Regions from separate parts of the Homo sapiens genome. Here regions 1 and 2 are each linked to region 3. Evidence: fine-mapped expression QTL. A gene starts in region 3. Each other region holds a variant in brackets. All regions are shown on one strand. Distances are from middle to middle.

Region 1 (5,000 bases), 32 kb before region 3:
CCCGAGACGAGACGAGTCCCATCTGAAAAATAGCAGGGCCACTCGAAGGAGCAGAGCCCCGGCTCCCCAGCACGCACACAGCCTCCCACGGCGGCCCGTAGAGGAGGAACCCCGGCACCGGCTGGGCTGCGGCTCTCCCGCTACACCCACGGGCTCCCCGGTGGCTGCCGCGGGCCAGACGCCGGACTCTGCTCTCCACACCTCTTCAGAGGCGCTCAGTAACTGGGTGAGAATGCCGCTGAGGCCGAGACCTTGCTCAGAGCAGCGTGACTCGTGCCCAAGGCAGGTCACTCCGTCTGGCCTCTCCCTTCCGCCAACACTGCCCAGCTCCAGGCACAGAAGCCTCCTTTGGGACCCACTTCTGAGAGGGAAAGGAGACATCAAGCCCACCTCCCTTAGTGCAGGTATGGCCGAGGCAAGAGCCCCCATGGCTGCTGGGAGTCCTGACACCACTCGAGAAAACATGCTTGCTCCTGGGGGAAGGAGAGTAAGAGTGCGGAGGACGTGTGCAAGAAGCTCCCCTCGGGATGGCGCCCACGCACACTCCGAGGCACAAGAAACTCCCCCTCGGGATGGCGCCCACGCACGCTCCGAGGCACAAGAAGCTCCCCCTCGGGATGGCGCCCACGCACACTCCGAGGCACAAGAAGCTCCCCTCGGGATGGCGCCCACGCACACTCCGAGGCACAAGAAGCTCCCCTCGGGATGGCGCCCACGCACGCTCCGAGGCACAAGAAACTCTCCCTCGGGATGGCGCCCACGCACGCTCCGAGGCACAGGAAGCTCCCCTCGGGATGGCGCCCACGCACGCTCCGAGGCACAGGAAGCTCCCCTCGGGATGGCGCCCACGCACACTCCGAGGCACAAGAAGCTCCCCTCGGGATGGCGCCCACGCACGCTCCGAGGCACAAGAAACTCCCCCTCGGGATGGCGCCCACGCACGCTCCGAGGCACAAGAAGCTCCCCTCGGGATGGCGCCCACGCACACTCCGAGGCACAAGAAGCTCCCCTCGGGATGGCGCCCACGCACGCTCCGAGGCACAAGAAACTCCCCCTCGGGATGGCGCCCACGCACGCTCGGAGGCACAGGAAGCTCCCCCTCGGGATGGCGCCCACGCACACTCCGAGGCACAAGAAGCTCCCCTCGGGATGGCGCCCACGCACACTCCGAGGCACAAGAAGCTCCCCTCGGGATGGCGCCCACGCACGCTCCGAGGCACAAGAAACTCCCCCTCGGGATGGCGCCCACGCACGCTCCGAGGCACAGGAAGCTCCCCTCGGGATGGCGCCCACGCACGCTCCGAGGCACACGAAGCTCCCCTCGGGATGGCGCCCACGCACGCTCCGAGGCACAAGAAACTCCCCCTCGGGATGGCGCCCACGCACGCTCCGAGGCACAAGAAACTCCCCCTCGGGATGGCGCCCACGCACGCTCCGAGGCACAAGAAGCTCCCCCTCGGGATGGCGCCCACGCACGCTCGGAGGCACAGGAAGCTCCCCCTCGGGATGGCGCCCACGCACACTCCAAGGCAGCTTCATCCCAAGGCTCCAGTGGGACTTCCAAGAGGACCGTGTCACTTCTCGCAGCCCACACGCACCCGTGTGAGGCTCAGTGTGGCCGAGGCACCAGCAGTCCAGAGGGGACTGAGGCCAGCCCTTCCTTCCAGGCCCGCCCTGTCCGCGCCCTCTCTCTCCCGCCATGAACAGGCCGGAGTCCCCGTGGCCATGGGAGGGCCAGGGCTGCTACCCGGCCGTGACTGAAGCAGGGGCGGATGAGGACTTCCTGGGGGAGCAGGAAAAGGGCCCAACACCTCCGCATGAACCTTCTACCTCCTGCTGCCCCCGGGCCTCTGGTCAACATCTCTGGGGTAGACAAGATGGAAAACAGAGGCCGGTGCTGAGAACTGCCTAAGGCTGCCCCAGCTCTGGAAATCTCAGCACCACGTTCCCGTCCGGGCCGAAGGTAGTCCAGAAATGGCTCAACTAATGCCGGACATTCTGTTCAAAACGCCCGCCCGCTCTTCTCCCTAGGGGTCCCAGGCGCCCAGGCCTGGAGGGATAACCCGGATGCCTGGCTCCCACCCACCACAGGAAGCCGAGGCTCCAGGGCCAGACCAGGCCAAGGACCCGCAATGGATTCCAACACCCGCTCTGTATGCGGAACAAAAGTGCTGCCAGCCACCCCTTCCTCCAAACGAGCCCCTGGGAAAGACCAGTCATCATTTGTGTCTCCAAATCTAGACACAGCACGAAACATCTAGGTGTCTCCCCTCTGCCCACAGCCTGGTACCCTGAGAAGGACTGAGCCTAGACTCAGTCAGAGCTGCGGCAGGTGGCCTCCCAGACTCCGCACCAGGAAACAAATACTGGACACAGCTTCGCAAGTGGGAAGCCACGGCGAAGAGAAGGCCAGGCTAGGAGGGAACTCCAAACACAGACCCACAGATGCACACCCAGGCCCAAAGACTCACACAGAGCCATCCGCCTGGAGACATGGAGACGGAGGCAGCCAAACAAACATGGAGATATTCAGGGACTGAAGAAACAAGGGGGCAGAGTCAAGCTCTGCCACCACCGACACCCAGGCCCGCTCCCAAGCCTCACCGGCTGTTGTGGCCTCCTGCCCCTCACCTCCCACCTCCTGAGCAGCTCCAGGCACGGAGGGCAGGTGCTGTGGTTCCAAGCCAGGGCTGGTGGCCCAGGGGGAAGGAGCCCCCAGAGCCCCACCAGCAGCAGCCACAGGGAACCAGCGGCTGGGGCCAACGGGGGCCTTCGACGGAAGGGCGGGGCGGGGCACACCCACAACCC[T/G]CCCAGGAGCAGCCGCTCCCGGCCCCTCCCACTGCCCGCCTTGCCCGGGCGGTGACCTAAAACACCAGCTCCAGAGACACACGCCCCAAACACAGGCCACTCTGAGTCACCCCTGGGGACACTGGCAGGCACACAGGCTCCTGCTGAGAGCAAGGGAAGCAGGTGGTAAAGATCTGGGGCTCCGGCAGCAGCACAAGAGGGGCCAGGCCCACGGCTTTCCAGCTCGTGGAGGTGGACACGGTCATGAGGCTGGACTTCGGGCTGGAGGCCCTGCCAGGTACTTCCAGGGGACCCCCCCACCCTTAATCTTCCTATTTCCAGAATGCTCCCCGGAGCGCCACGCTTGCAATCCCATCCCTGGCCCCTCAGCTCCAAACCTGCAGACTGTTTGCCTCCTGTCCCCAGGCCTCTCTTTCTAGAACCTTCTGCATTCTTCCCCAGCATAACACCCCTAACCACAGGCCCTGCAGTCTCAGTATGTCATTCCTATTCCCAGACCCTGGGCCCAAGGGTGAGGGAGCCGGGCCTGGGAAGGCTCGGGGTGTCGGGGCCACAGCGGTGCAGGTCACACTCCACACAGCCCCCCAGGTCTCCTCCACCCACCCCCAAGAGGCACAGGATTGCACCGAAGGCCGCAGACTCCAAAAGCTGCAGTGCAGGTGGAAGAGGCTCCCTGGGAAGCAGCCCTAGCCCCATCCTTGCCTGGCCTGAGTCAGGAGCTGCGAGCACAGGGGATTTCCTCCACTTCACTCTTCTTCCTGGTCCTCAATACTGCCCCTGCCTCAAAGGTACCTGAAACCTGCCCTGCCCCAGCCAGTTGCTCAGACACCCTGGGGATCAGCCAGCACAAGGCAGGGCCAGCAGTGGTGGGGCCTCAGGGCAGGCGCTAGAACTGCGGGGGCTCAGGTGGAAGACAGGGACTCCCGAGAGGCTGTGGGAGGAGGGTTAGGTATAGAGAGGGTCCTCCCAAGGGGAGATGGGAAGAGAGGACCAGAGGCTGGAGGCAGGCCTGGGAGGGGGTGGTGGGCTCAGCAGGAAGGATGGAAAGCTGCAAGAGGGCAGGCTGGGCTGCTTCAGCTACTGAAACGCACCCAGGTGGATGGCTGAGTCCCTGTGCCAGGAAGAAGCAGGGAGAGAAGCGGGGAGGAGCAGAGGAGGAAGCACGGGAGTCCAGAACTCTGCTGCCACCGAGGCCAGGCCACTCCCTACCCCTCCATAAAGGCAGCCTGGCCCAACCACACAGCCAGGGCTGCAGCCCAGTGGGAAAGGGTGGTGGAGGGAAGCTGGGCAGGGAAAGGCACTAGGAAGACGGAGGCAGGCCTGTCCTCCCCTCACACTGCAGGGTTCAGGCCCAACCGCCAGCCTGTATGTGGCCAAGGGAATCTTGGAGGCCAAACAGATCTGTCCACAGGTCCCTCCGACCTGTGCCCTTCAAGCGATCCCAGGGCGGGGCCCAGCCCTGCACTCCCTACCTTCCCTCGATGACGGTGATGACATCATTCATCTGGATGTGCAGCTTGTCCGGTTCCTCAAAGTCCTGAAGGGCCCGCATGTCTGTGGGCTGGGCCTGGAGGAAGAGGAAGGTCGTGGCCAACTCTGGGACTGACGCCTGGGTAGCCCCTCAGCTTGAACACCCCAGCTCTCCTGGGCTGACCTGTCCCTCACCTCCAGCAGGAAGTCCCGCAGGGCCACAAACGTGGGTCTGTCCTCTGGCTTGTGAGCCCAGCACTGGACCATGACGTTGTAGATGTCCTGGGGACAGTCCTCGGGCCGGGGCAGCCGCTCCCCCTCCTTGTCGATCTTATGCAGGATCTGAAGGTGAGGAGGTGCAGAGTTTGACGACAAACAGAGCGCCCAGCCCTTCACTTCCCGCCTTCCCTCCAGCCCATCCACAGCTGCAGCGGCTGCTGCCATGCCTGGCCTCCAAAGAAGGGATCTGCCTGCCTGGGAGGGGCCCTCTCCAGAGCCCCAGTCCCTTCTTCCCAGGTCTGGAGCCTCGGAACAAGTGGATGTGGCAAGGGCTAGAGAAGGAGGGCAGGCCCCAGCTTTTCCCTCCCCGTCTCTTTGCTGGGCTCTCCCTGAGGCCATACAGATACGGGGCGTGAGAGGAGACACGGGGCGTGGTGGGAGGCACGGGAAGTGGGGGGAGGCACGGGGCGTGGGAGGAGGGAGTCCATTGGTGAGAGGCAGTT
Region 2 (5,000 bases), 39 kb before region 3:
CAGCCTGGGGCATCGGCCGCACGGTGGCCGTGGGGGCGGCGGGGGCTGGGGTGCTGGGTGGGGGCAGCAGCAGAGGCACAGGCAGGGGGGTAGGCTCCTCGGGGCTCTGGGCCTCACGCAGGAAGCGCTGGTAGCGCTCCAGGTAGGATGGTCGCTCGGGCAGCAAGTAATAGTGGGTGCTGCTGACCTTCTTGCCATCCCGGACGATGGGCAGGATGCAGGGACCAGCCCGCGGGCCAGGGGCCTGGATCACCTGGGGGGTGGCGTACTTGGGGTCTGAGGCAAAGCTCTGGGTGGTGGGCATGGTCTTCCCAGGTGAGCTTGAGAGCCGGGGTGGCAGCGGGGAGCTGCCAGGTGGTACCAGGGGGCTGGGTGTCCTCGAGCCTTGAGGGGACAGGGGCTCCCGCGGAGGCACCCGGGGAGGGGAAGCAGGTCCAGGCCACTGGCTGGTCTCCTCCTCGCCCGGGGGGGCTGGAGACAGCTGGACGTGTGGGCGCGTGGGCCGAGGGGGGATGGGTACCCGAGGAGGCACCTGGGGCTTGTCGTCACCCCCCGGGCTGGGAGAGGGGGCCGGGGAGCCGGCCGGAGCCTGCAGTTGCCTCATGCACTCCTGCTGTAGCGCCTGGAAGATCTCTGCGGTCTGTGCGGAGCTGGGCGGCTTGCCCCCACCCTGGGGCGGGAGGAACAGGTTGTCCTCCAGGGGAGGGGGCGGCCGCGCCTGCTCAGGCACAAAGGCGTAGTTGGTCTGGCCCTGGCTGGGCCCGGCAGGGACCCCCGCGCCCACGAGGGTGCTGTTGATGGAGCAGATCTCAAAGTCATCCTCATCCTGGGCCACGTCGTCATAGGCGGGCGGGGGGGGCAGCGGGCGTGCGTCCCAGTCCACCACAGGCGTGGGGTGCAGGGGCCGGGGCAGTGCCCGCGTGGGGCTCTGAGGCGGGGTCTCGTCCAGCAGGGAGCAGGCGTCCATGGCCAGCTGCGCCAGGGAGGGCGCGCAGGGCCGTAGGGCCGGGACCACGGGCTCCTCACCGAAGTCGATGAGCGTGACCTCAGCCCCGCTGCCTCGGCTGGCCTTGGTGCCCGGCACCCGCGCCGAGGGCTTCGCCAGCCACAGCCCTCGGGGCAGGCCTGGCTTCCGCAGGCCCAGCCTCTTGAAGTCGCTGGACAAGGGGTCTTGGTCCTCGCTCACAGGGTCATAGGTTGGTTCTGTGATGGAAAGGGAGAGCCCAACAGGAAGGCAGTCAGGCAGGGTCTGGGACACGAGGGGAGGTGGCACGTGGGAGAGAAAGCCAAGTGTCCCCCAGCAACCCTCCACTCCCAACTCCCCCCGAGGTCTGAGGTCAGCCACCGGCGGCCAGGTTCTCAGCGCACCTCCGACCACTCCATCAGGAGGGCGGAACCTGCTCTGCCCGGCAGCCCCATGTGGGCCGGTGAGCCCCGCCTCGCTCCGTCTAAGCTGCAGCAAGCAACACTGGCTCCTGCCTGACGCTGCCTCCACCAGCACAAGACCCCGGCGGCCCTGCTCCTGCGCCCTGGCGAGTTAGTGAGCCCTCATCCCCGCCCCTGTCACGGCACACCATTAGTGCAGGCACGGAGCCGCCTCCTGCCATCAGGGGCTATAAGGACTATCCTTGGAGAGGACAGTACTCCTGACCAACGGCCACAAAGCCCAGACAGCGCCTGCAGGTCTGGGAGGCAGCGAGGCCAAGGCAGAAGCCAGGGCCACACTCGTGCTCCAGAAGCTCAGACAGGTCTGGGAGGGAGTGAGGCCGAGGCGGAAGCCAGGGCCACACTCGTGAGCAGAAGCCCAGGCTCCGGGGGGCGGGCTCGAGGGGGGGCAGGCATGCTAGGCCAGGGCAGCCGCGGAAGCTCACAGCACACACCCACCCACCTCCCCTCCGGCCCAGCCGCCCAGGCTCTGTACCTTCCAGGAGAGGAGTGAGAGAGAGGGGGCGGGGGCGGGGGCCAAGGCATCGGAAGCAGCCCCACTTACTCTGAGTGAAGAAGGCAGGCTGAGGTGGGCGAGGTGGAGGCTCCCCTGCAAGAAAGGCCATGCGGACAGGGGGAGAGAGACGGAGCAGGACAGAGGACAAAGGAGGGAGACGGCCGGACGAGAGGGCAGAGTGTAGAGAGACGAAGGGAGAGAAGTGAATGGGGGCGAGTGAATGTACAAGCCCCCAGCAAACGGGAGGCCGCAGGCGGCAGGATGAGGAACACGGCGGTCCAGTATGATAGGCAGAGGACCGGGAGATGGAGGAGGCCCCAGGCAGAGCCGGAGCCGTGGGGTGGTTTTGGCTTGGGACAGGAGAGCAGGATTAGGGGGAAGTGAGGAAAGCCAGGATCTGAGCTCGGCCGTGGAAGGAGGGAGGAGGGACGCCGGGGCGGACGGGCCTGCTGCAGACCCAGCCCGAGGAGGCCCACCTCGGCGGATACAGCTGCCTGTCTTCCACCCCACGCCCAGCCGGAGCCAGGGACACAGCTGTCCCGCCTGCTGCCCTGACCCCACTGTCCCCAAAAACAGAACAGCAGCCT[T/C]AGGGTGGCCTGTGAAGACAGTGCCCCTTCCTGAGTAGCCGATGAGTTAGGGACACCAGGGAGCAGAGGGGCTCTTACTTTTCACCCCTCCTAGATGCTGGGGGGGCCGGGAGGTGCTCAGTTCCACGCTCAGGAGGTCGGGGGGGTCCATGGGGTTTCCCAGATACAGTCTGTGGGGGAGAGAGCTGGGTCAAGAGAGCAGGGGAAGCGTGTGGAGGGGTGGCAGAATCTCATCAGAGCCCCTTCGTCCTGGAGGAAACCGGGTGTAGTCTTGGGTCTGAAGCACAGGCCTCCCGCCTCCCAGTCCACAGAACCTGACCGCACGTCTCAGCTGGGGGGTGTCCTGGAGAGAAGGCAGAGAAAGGACACCTGACCCCAGGATGGAAAGCCTAGGACCTCAGGGACTCCAACTACACCCTACAAGGGCAGAGGTGGTCCTCCACAACCCCCCAGGCCCCCAGCCCACACCAGGCAGCGGCCAGAGGGCAGACACTCCTGTCCCGCAGGCCACGATGGAGGGCCTAAGAACGGGGCATCCCAGCTATGGTGCCCAGCCAGGGTGGGCAGGAGGCACCCTTCTGCCACATGGCCAGGAGGTGCGGGAGAGGCTGGGCCACCTGTCCTGCTCCGGATCCACCCTCCGTCCCTGCACCAACTGTCAGTATCTGAGACTTAGTCACTGGGGCTGATTAAAGCCTGGAGGAATGGGGCTGGGCTGGCCACAGCATGCCAGGAGTGGGGCAGAGGGCACCAGCCTCTCCTGGAGGTGTCTGCAGTCTTTCACCCCAACTCTCAGGCCCTTGCTGGGTTCTTTTTAGGCAAAACACATGGGCTGAGCCCTGTGAGCTTGGGGTTCCAGTGTGTGTGGGCCCGCTGTGTGGGTTCTGGTGTGTGGGGGCCCGCTGTGTGGGTTCTGGTGTGGGGGGACTCGCTGTGTGGGGTTCTGGTGTGTGGGGGCCCGCTGTGTGGGTTCTGGTGTGTGGGGGCCCGCTGTGTGGGGTTCTGGTGTGTGGGGCCCGGTGGGTGAAGGCCCCTGCTTTCCACGCCTCTCAGGGCAGACCAGAGTATCAGAAGTCAGCAGGAGAAGGGCTGCAGAGGCCAGGGGCCTGGAATCCCCCTGCGGCCAGCAGAGAGGCTTGGAGGCCTGGCGCAAGAAGCTTCGGGGGGTGGGGGGTGGCATCCCGGAAGTGACTGATTCTGCGTGTCCTTCCCAGATGCCCCTCGGTGGCCTTATCCTCTTACATAGGAGACAGGGCCTCTCCCAGGTATGGAGTGAGCTCCGTAGAGTACTGTGTGGTGGGGAGGCGGAGCTGCCACCTAACGTTCCCTCTGCAGTCCCCAAGGTCCCCAGTCCCACTCTGGTTCTGGAAAGCAGGCTCACTCCCATGTGGACCTGCATACATCCCCAGGGCCTGAGCCAGCAGGTTCACGTCTCCAGGACTCTGGCACCACCAGCAGGAGAAGGAAAACCACTGCTCGTGTGCAGGGGTCACAGGGTCACAGGGTCACAGGGGGCCACAGGGGGGTCATGGGAGAAGCTCTCCTCCTCAGCAGCTCCCACCGGGTTCCTCCCAAGTTCATTTTCCTAAGGCCCGAGTACCAAGAGGGGTTACAGCTGTGGCTCCGGGGACCTTTCCACCAAACAGGAGTCCATCCTCAGAAGCTCCTGACCCTACTTTCATCTACAGTGAGTGGGAAAGCTTCTCTCAGGACCCCTGCATCTGAGCAGCAAGTGCTAATTCAGAGTGCATTTACAGCCTTCCCCTTATTGGGGGGGTGAACCTGTTTCACAGATGAAGTGTCTCAGAGTTAGGAGATCGGCCCCCCAAAGCTTGAAAATGGCAGGGACAGCATTCCCCTGGAGAACGCTCCCCGGAGAACCCTCCCCTGGAGAACCCTCCCCTGGAGAACATTCCCCTGGAGAACCCTCCCCTGGAGAACCCTCCCCTGGAGAACCCTCCCCTGGAGAACATTCCCCTGGAGAACCCTCCCCTGGAGAACCCTCCCCTGGAGAACACTCCCCTGGAGAACATTCCCCTGGAGAACCCCCACCAGGCTGGGCTTCCTAGGGTTCCACAGCTTCCCGAGAGTAAGGCCAGGGTGAGGAGGGGAGAGTGGCGGGTCGGGGGCTGAAGCCCGGGCGAAAGGGTGAAGAGCAGATTCCGCCCACGCGTGCCGTGCTGAGGGCCCTGGAGTCCCGAGCGGGGCCAGGTCAGCATCCATCCCCGCCCAGTACTCACTCGTCAATCCTGTCCGGGAAGCCCCAGCAGTGGCGGGGGTCACTGTCGCCATGCCCTGTGTGGATGAAGCTGTTCTGCAGGGGCTGGCTGATGTCCTGGGCCGACAGGCCGGCCACGGAGGTCACCACGTTGCGAGGGAAGGGCCCCACACACAGCGTCCGTGTGTTCTGGCCACGCCACCAGTAGTTCTCGGCCCTGCGCGACAGAGATGGCACGGTGAACGCCAGGCGT
Region 3 (5,320 bases):
ATCAAAGACATGGACAAACCAGAACTCTCATACACAGTGGATGAGTATATAAAATGTACAACCACTTTGGAAAACAGTCTGGCAGTTTCTTAAAGGTTAAATGTGTACCTACCACATGACCCAGCCATTCCGGTCCTAGGGATTTACCTAAGATAAATAAAAGTGTACATCCACACAAAGACTAACAAACACGTTCACAGCAGCTTTCTCTGAAAACCCATCAACAGGTCAATGGATAAACAGACTTTGGCACACGTGTACAATGACTGTTGATACGCGCAACCACCTGGACAAACTCCAAAATACTTCTGTTGAATGAAAGACGCGATTCCGTTTACAGTAAATGCTGCAAACTCAGACACAGTGACAGAAAGTAGACCAGCCTGTTACCTGGGGTAGGGGATGGCAGAGGAGCGGGGGATGGAGGGGTTCCACAAGAAAACTTCTGGGGACAGGGGAATAAGGGGGATGTTCACTATCTTGAAGGTGGGGGTGGTTTCACGGGTATATACACAGGCCACAACTTATTAAATTGTGTGTTTTAAATATGCTCAGTTTACCATATGTCATTATATCTCAATAAAACTGTTATTTAAAACAAACAAAAAGAAACACTGCATCTTCTAGACGAAGCACAAGGTGGGGGCTAATCCCGGGCTCAGGGGCCAGAGGGAACAGTCTGACCCTTCCTCCCTAACATCTGCCGGGGCTCCGGGGAGGTGGGCACCAGGCTCCAAAGGGCCTGAGGTTTCTTTACTCACGACACTGCAGGGGAAGTCCTGGCCCACCGCAGACACCAAGAAACTGAAACCTAAAGACATTATGTTGCCCAAGGAAGTTACACAGCTTGTAAGCGATATAACCAGATCAAAAGCAATCTGTGTGATGCCAAGGCCTTTCTCCCATTCATCTACCACAAGTTCAAAAACGCCGACCTGAAATAAGTAGGTGAAGATTGTGTGTATGTGTTTAAAACAGACCGTTCTCTCCACTGAAGCCAGACAGTGAGAGCCACTCTGGCCATTCCAGAAGCGTCAGGCACCGTGGGCACAGCAGCTGAACTTCCGGTGCATGAGTGTTTGGGTGGCAGCGCGACAGGCATGGGATGAAGCTGACAGGCGGGTTTGAGTTTGTCTGAGGAGCGGGCTAACCGGCTCCTCCAGCAGCTGCTACCTCCAGCACCACTCCCTCTGCCCCCAGAGGAGAGCACCCAGTCTGGTTCGGGACAGGGGTCTGGGTCCATCTGACTCACAGCCACACCTCGGGCTGGGGCAGAGGAGGGTCCTCTAGCTAAGGCCCTGGGCAAGCAGCAACCCTGCACCCATCCCCACCCAGGGGCAGGGGAAGCAAGCACCTGACAGTGCCAGGTAAGAGGCGAACAGCTCTAGGAGAGTAAGGCCCACAAGCAGCCCGCCAAGCCCCCTGGGGGCACGAGGCGGAATGAGTAGGTCTGGCACTCAGGCCACGAGGGAGTCAACAAGCCAAATACAGCCCCCACCCTTGGCCCCTACAAGCCCTACCTCTAGACTGGGCTGGGAGCTCCTGTCCTGACAGGTGCAGAGCCCATGATACCACAGCGGCCCATCTGCAAACCTCCCCAGGGTGGGGCCACAGAGGCAGCCCAGAGCCCTGGGGTGCAAGTGCACCCTCCTCTCCCGCCCCTCTAACGCTGGGTCGTCCCACCCAGAGACGAGAGGGCTCACCAGTTGCTCTCCCTCCTTCCGCCCACTAATCATCCTTGGCTCTGGGCCCTCAGGGTAAATCAGCTGTGACAGGACGGCGTGGCAGAAGCGGGCCAGGCTCGTGCCGTACCCAAGCCACTAGCTGTCACACTCATCTCAGCTCACGTGACCAACAGGGTTACAAGATAAGGTTCTGTTAATCCCACGCTGCCCTCTTCCCTTCTGTGGGACGTGTTTTGAGGACTTGTGTGTTGACTGCACCATGCAGAGCATATAGCATGGAGGCACCCCTACTGCCATCGGGGGGCAGGTGGAGGGGGGACCGTCCTGCAGCTCCTCCCTGGGGCTACCCCTCTCTTCCCTCTGCACAGACCTGGCAGCCACCCAGACGTCCCGCCTGCTGCCTAGACTCTAAGAAGATGCCCTATCACTCCAATTACCATACACAGTACTGGCGGGGGAGAGGTCCTGCCTTGCCGCTGAAAACTGCACTGCTTCCTCCCTCCAGGGATGAAAGGCCAAAAGAACGAGGGCAGTGTGGAGTCTACGCTCTCGCCAGGGACCTGCAGCCTCTCACTTCCAAGCACACCAACTCCAGCTAACAGGACTGGGCTTCCTTACCTGCCGCCTTCCGCTGCCTCCCCGCAGACACAGCTTCAGCGACGCCCAGGCTGAGACGGCAGAAGAGGTTCCCGCCGGCCGCGGCCTGCCCTCAGGCAGTGGCTCCCAGAGCTCAGCGGTTCCCCGCACTCTTCTGCGCCCGACTCCCCATGCCCCTACATCCTGCGTCCCCTTCAGCCCCGGAGGTACCGTGGGGCCCGGGCCTGCCAGTCACCACCTCCTCCTCCGCCGGCGCCTCCGGGTCCTGAGCCCCTCGCCGGGTCCCTCTCCCTCCTGGGGCTCCTTCCCGTTCAGGTAGGTTTCCTGGACAGCCCGCACCACCTGTCCCTCCTGCACCCCGGGCAGCCAATTCGCCTCTTGCACCCCCAGGCGCCCCTCCCCCGCAGGCCCCCGGGGCCCCACCGGCCGGGCCCTCCCCACCAGCTCGGGGCGGCTTCGGGGCGCCGGGGCCGCTCCCAGGACCACCGCCTCCCGCCCGACGCTCTCCCACTGCCGCTCCCCCAGTTCGCCGGAACTTTCCGGCCCCTCCCTGCGCTCGCGGGGGCCTTCCCCGGACTCGGACGCCGGTTCGGGCTGCTGCAGCAGCCTCCGCGGGCTCCCCTCCCCGCGCTCCTGCACCCCGGCCCGGGCCTCGCCGCGCTCCTGCACTGCGGGGCTGCCTCCGCCCTTCTCCTGGTGCTGCCCGCGGGGCCCCAGCCCCTCCTCCTGCGCCACAGGCCAGCCCGCCGAGCCCGTCCACCACGGCGGGCGCCCCCAGCCCGCGCCGTCCGGCGGCCCCCACACCACCCCCCGGCTGGGCTCGTGGCCGCGGCCGCCGCGCTCCTGCAGCCCCGGGCCCACCCCGCCCTCCTCCTGCACCGCCGGGCCCACCCCGCCCCGCTCCTCCACGCCGAGCTTCAGCCCGCGGAGCTGCTGCGGGCCCCAGCTGAGAACCCCTACGCGCTGCGGCTGCTGCTCCGGCAGCGCAGGGCTCAGCCCGCCGCGCTCCTCCTGCGCGACCCGCCGGGGGCCCCCGACCGGCTCGGCCCAGCGCACTCGCTTGCCCCCCAGAGGCCGCGCGCTCCCACCCCTCCAGATGGTGCTGCCCTCGGCGCCCGCTCACACCGCCCGCCCGCCCCGGCCCTCCCCTCCCGCCCCGGGCCGCCCCCGAGTCCCGCGCCCGCCTCCCCGCCCTCGCCTCCGGGCGTCAACGTCGGCCCGCCGGGCGCCCGCCCCGCGCCGGCCCCCGCAGGTGAGCGCCCGCCCGCCGTCCCTCCTGCCGAGCGCCCCGAGCCCGCCTGCGCCTGCGCCTGCGCCGCCCCGGGGTGGGGGGTGGGGGGGAGTCGGCCCGCCCTCTTAAAGGGCCCGGCCTCATCGCTCCTCCCCCGGCTCCTCCCCCAGCCTCCGGGGCCCTACCCCGCTCTCCCCGACTCCCCCGGGCCCGGCCTGCGCCTTCCTGCGGTGCCGAGGAGCGGTGGCGCCCTGGGTGAAGAAGTCCCGCCGAGTCGAGGGGCGCAATGGAGGAGCGCCGGAACAGGTCTCTCATTCCGAGTAGCTACCGTTGCACTGTGCGAGTGTAAAAGTCACTTCCACCCGGTCTCAGTTGTTCCAACCTCAGTTGAAGTGAGGAGGTTGGACTGGAAGGTTTCTGGGGTCACTCCAGTGAGGCTGGGGTTCTAGTCCCAATCTCACCGTGGCACCCCAAAGGCCCAGAAACCCGGACCATCACCTCTCTTTCCCCGGGGCCAACGGAGCACTCCTGAAGGAGGGAGGGTTTGTCTCAGGCCTGACGATTCCTGATGAGGACTTGGGCAGAAACAGCCCCAGGCAAGCGGACCTTCATTCCTGCACTTGAGCCGTCTCCTCCCTGCCCCCACCCCAGAAGGAGAAAACCCAGCGCTCGGATTCCCAGCGGCGGGGCAGCCTGCAGGCCCTGTTCCCAGCCCACAGACCCATGTCCCAGCCCAAACGGAGGCAGCCCTGGGCAGCGGGCGCGTGGAGCCCAAGGGCTCAGGGCCACTCAGCCCTTGTTACTGTCCCTCATCTAGAAAATGGATGTAATAACAAAACAGTTCACGGTAGGTGGCAAGATCAGACACATCGGAAACTGTGTAGGGCTGGCTCTTTCTGCGCTCACACTGTCCAGCAATGGGCCCCAGGGACTTGGCCAGAGCGCAGTAGGGCAATGAGAAAGGGGTGGCTTCTGGAAACCTACACGAGGCCCAGTCTGGGTGGATTTGGGTGGCGGTCCCTTGCCTGCGAGGTGGGCAGGGCAACTTTCTACTAAATTATCTAACACTGCCAGTAATGGCAGCCCTTCCCCAGGGAGCCAGGAGGCTGGGCCAGGACCACCCCCCTGTCGCCTGGCTTCAGGAAAGAAAGTGGGGAAGACAACAGATTTGGGAGAAGGAAACTGAGGAGGTTTTCTCCCAGTCTCCCTCACGCTGCCTCAGTCATGGCCATTGCTAAGACTCACAGAGCCCAACTGTGCAAGGCCCTGCACTTCGCATTCTTCTCATCCAACCCCATGACAACCCAAGGAGACACATAATATCCCCATTTTACACGTGGCAGAACTGAGGTTCTACATGGCCAAGTGACTTGTTCAGTGCCATACAGCTGGTAGTAGTGAAGCCAGGATTCAAATCCAGCTTTCCGACTCTAAAGTCTAAGGCACAGACCGAGTGTGGTGACTCATGCCTGTAATCACAGCACTTTGGAGGCTGAGGAGGGCAAATCATTTGAGCTCCCAAGTTCAGGACCAGCCTGGGCAACACGGCAAAACCCTGTCTCTACAAAAAAAATAGAAAAATTAGCAGAGCATGGTGGCACGCACCTGTAATCCCAGCTACTCGGGAGGCCGAGGGGGGAGGATCGCTTGAGCCTGGGAGGTGGAGGTTGCACTGAGTAGAGACCACACCACTGCACTCCTGCCTGGGCAATAGAGCCAGACCTTGCCTCAAAAAAAAAAAAAATCTGAGGCACAAAAAAGCAACGCCAAATCCAGGGGCCCTGCTTCAGGAAGCATCAGGACTAAC

What was found. PIP is the estimated chance that this variant, and not a neighbour inherited with it, causes the effect.
Region 1: its variant is fine-mapped to the expression of TNK2 in nasal epithelium (TOPMed, PIP 0.99).
Region 2: its variant is fine-mapped to the expression of TNK2 in thyroid (GTEx, PIP above 0.99). The same link has a PIP of 0.9 or more in adrenal gland, blood mononuclear cells, cerebellum, lung, naive CD4 T cells and pituitary.

The regions. Positions count from the first base shown.
Region 1 is chr3:195,873,973-195,878,972 of GRCh38, forward strand. It overlaps TNK2 (tyrosine kinase non receptor 2), which reads right to left. Exons shown (of 16, transcript NM_001382273.1): 8 at 4,474-4,620; 9 at 4,281-4,375. Among named protein-coding and RNA genes, the nearest start is that of MIR6829, 5.9 kb to the right of the region's middle. RefSeq lists an enhancer at 3,556-4,110. The variant T/G (reference allele first, on the strand shown) is at 2,809.
Region 2 is chr3:195,867,507-195,872,506 of GRCh38, forward strand. It overlaps TNK2 (tyrosine kinase non receptor 2), which reads right to left. Exons shown (of 16, transcript NM_001382273.1): 10 at 4,770-4,964; 11 at 2,608-2,699; 12 at 1,991-2,035; 13 at 1-1,203. Among named protein-coding and RNA genes, the nearest start is that of LINC01983, 9.6 kb to the left of the region's middle. The variant T/C (reference allele first, on the strand shown) is at 2,530.
Region 3 is chr3:195,906,182-195,911,501 of GRCh38, forward strand. It overlaps TNK2 (tyrosine kinase non receptor 2), which reads right to left and starts at 2,370. Exons shown (of 16, transcript NM_001382273.1): 1 at 2,304-2,370. It overlaps TNK2-AS1 (TNK2 antisense RNA 1), which reads left to right and starts at 1,895. Exons shown (of 2, transcript NR_145450.1): 1 at 1,895-2,597; 2 at 3,684-5,320. RefSeq lists enhancers at 584-633, 684-913, 3,904-3,953 and silencers at 2,584-2,833, 2,884-3,073, 3,124-3,773.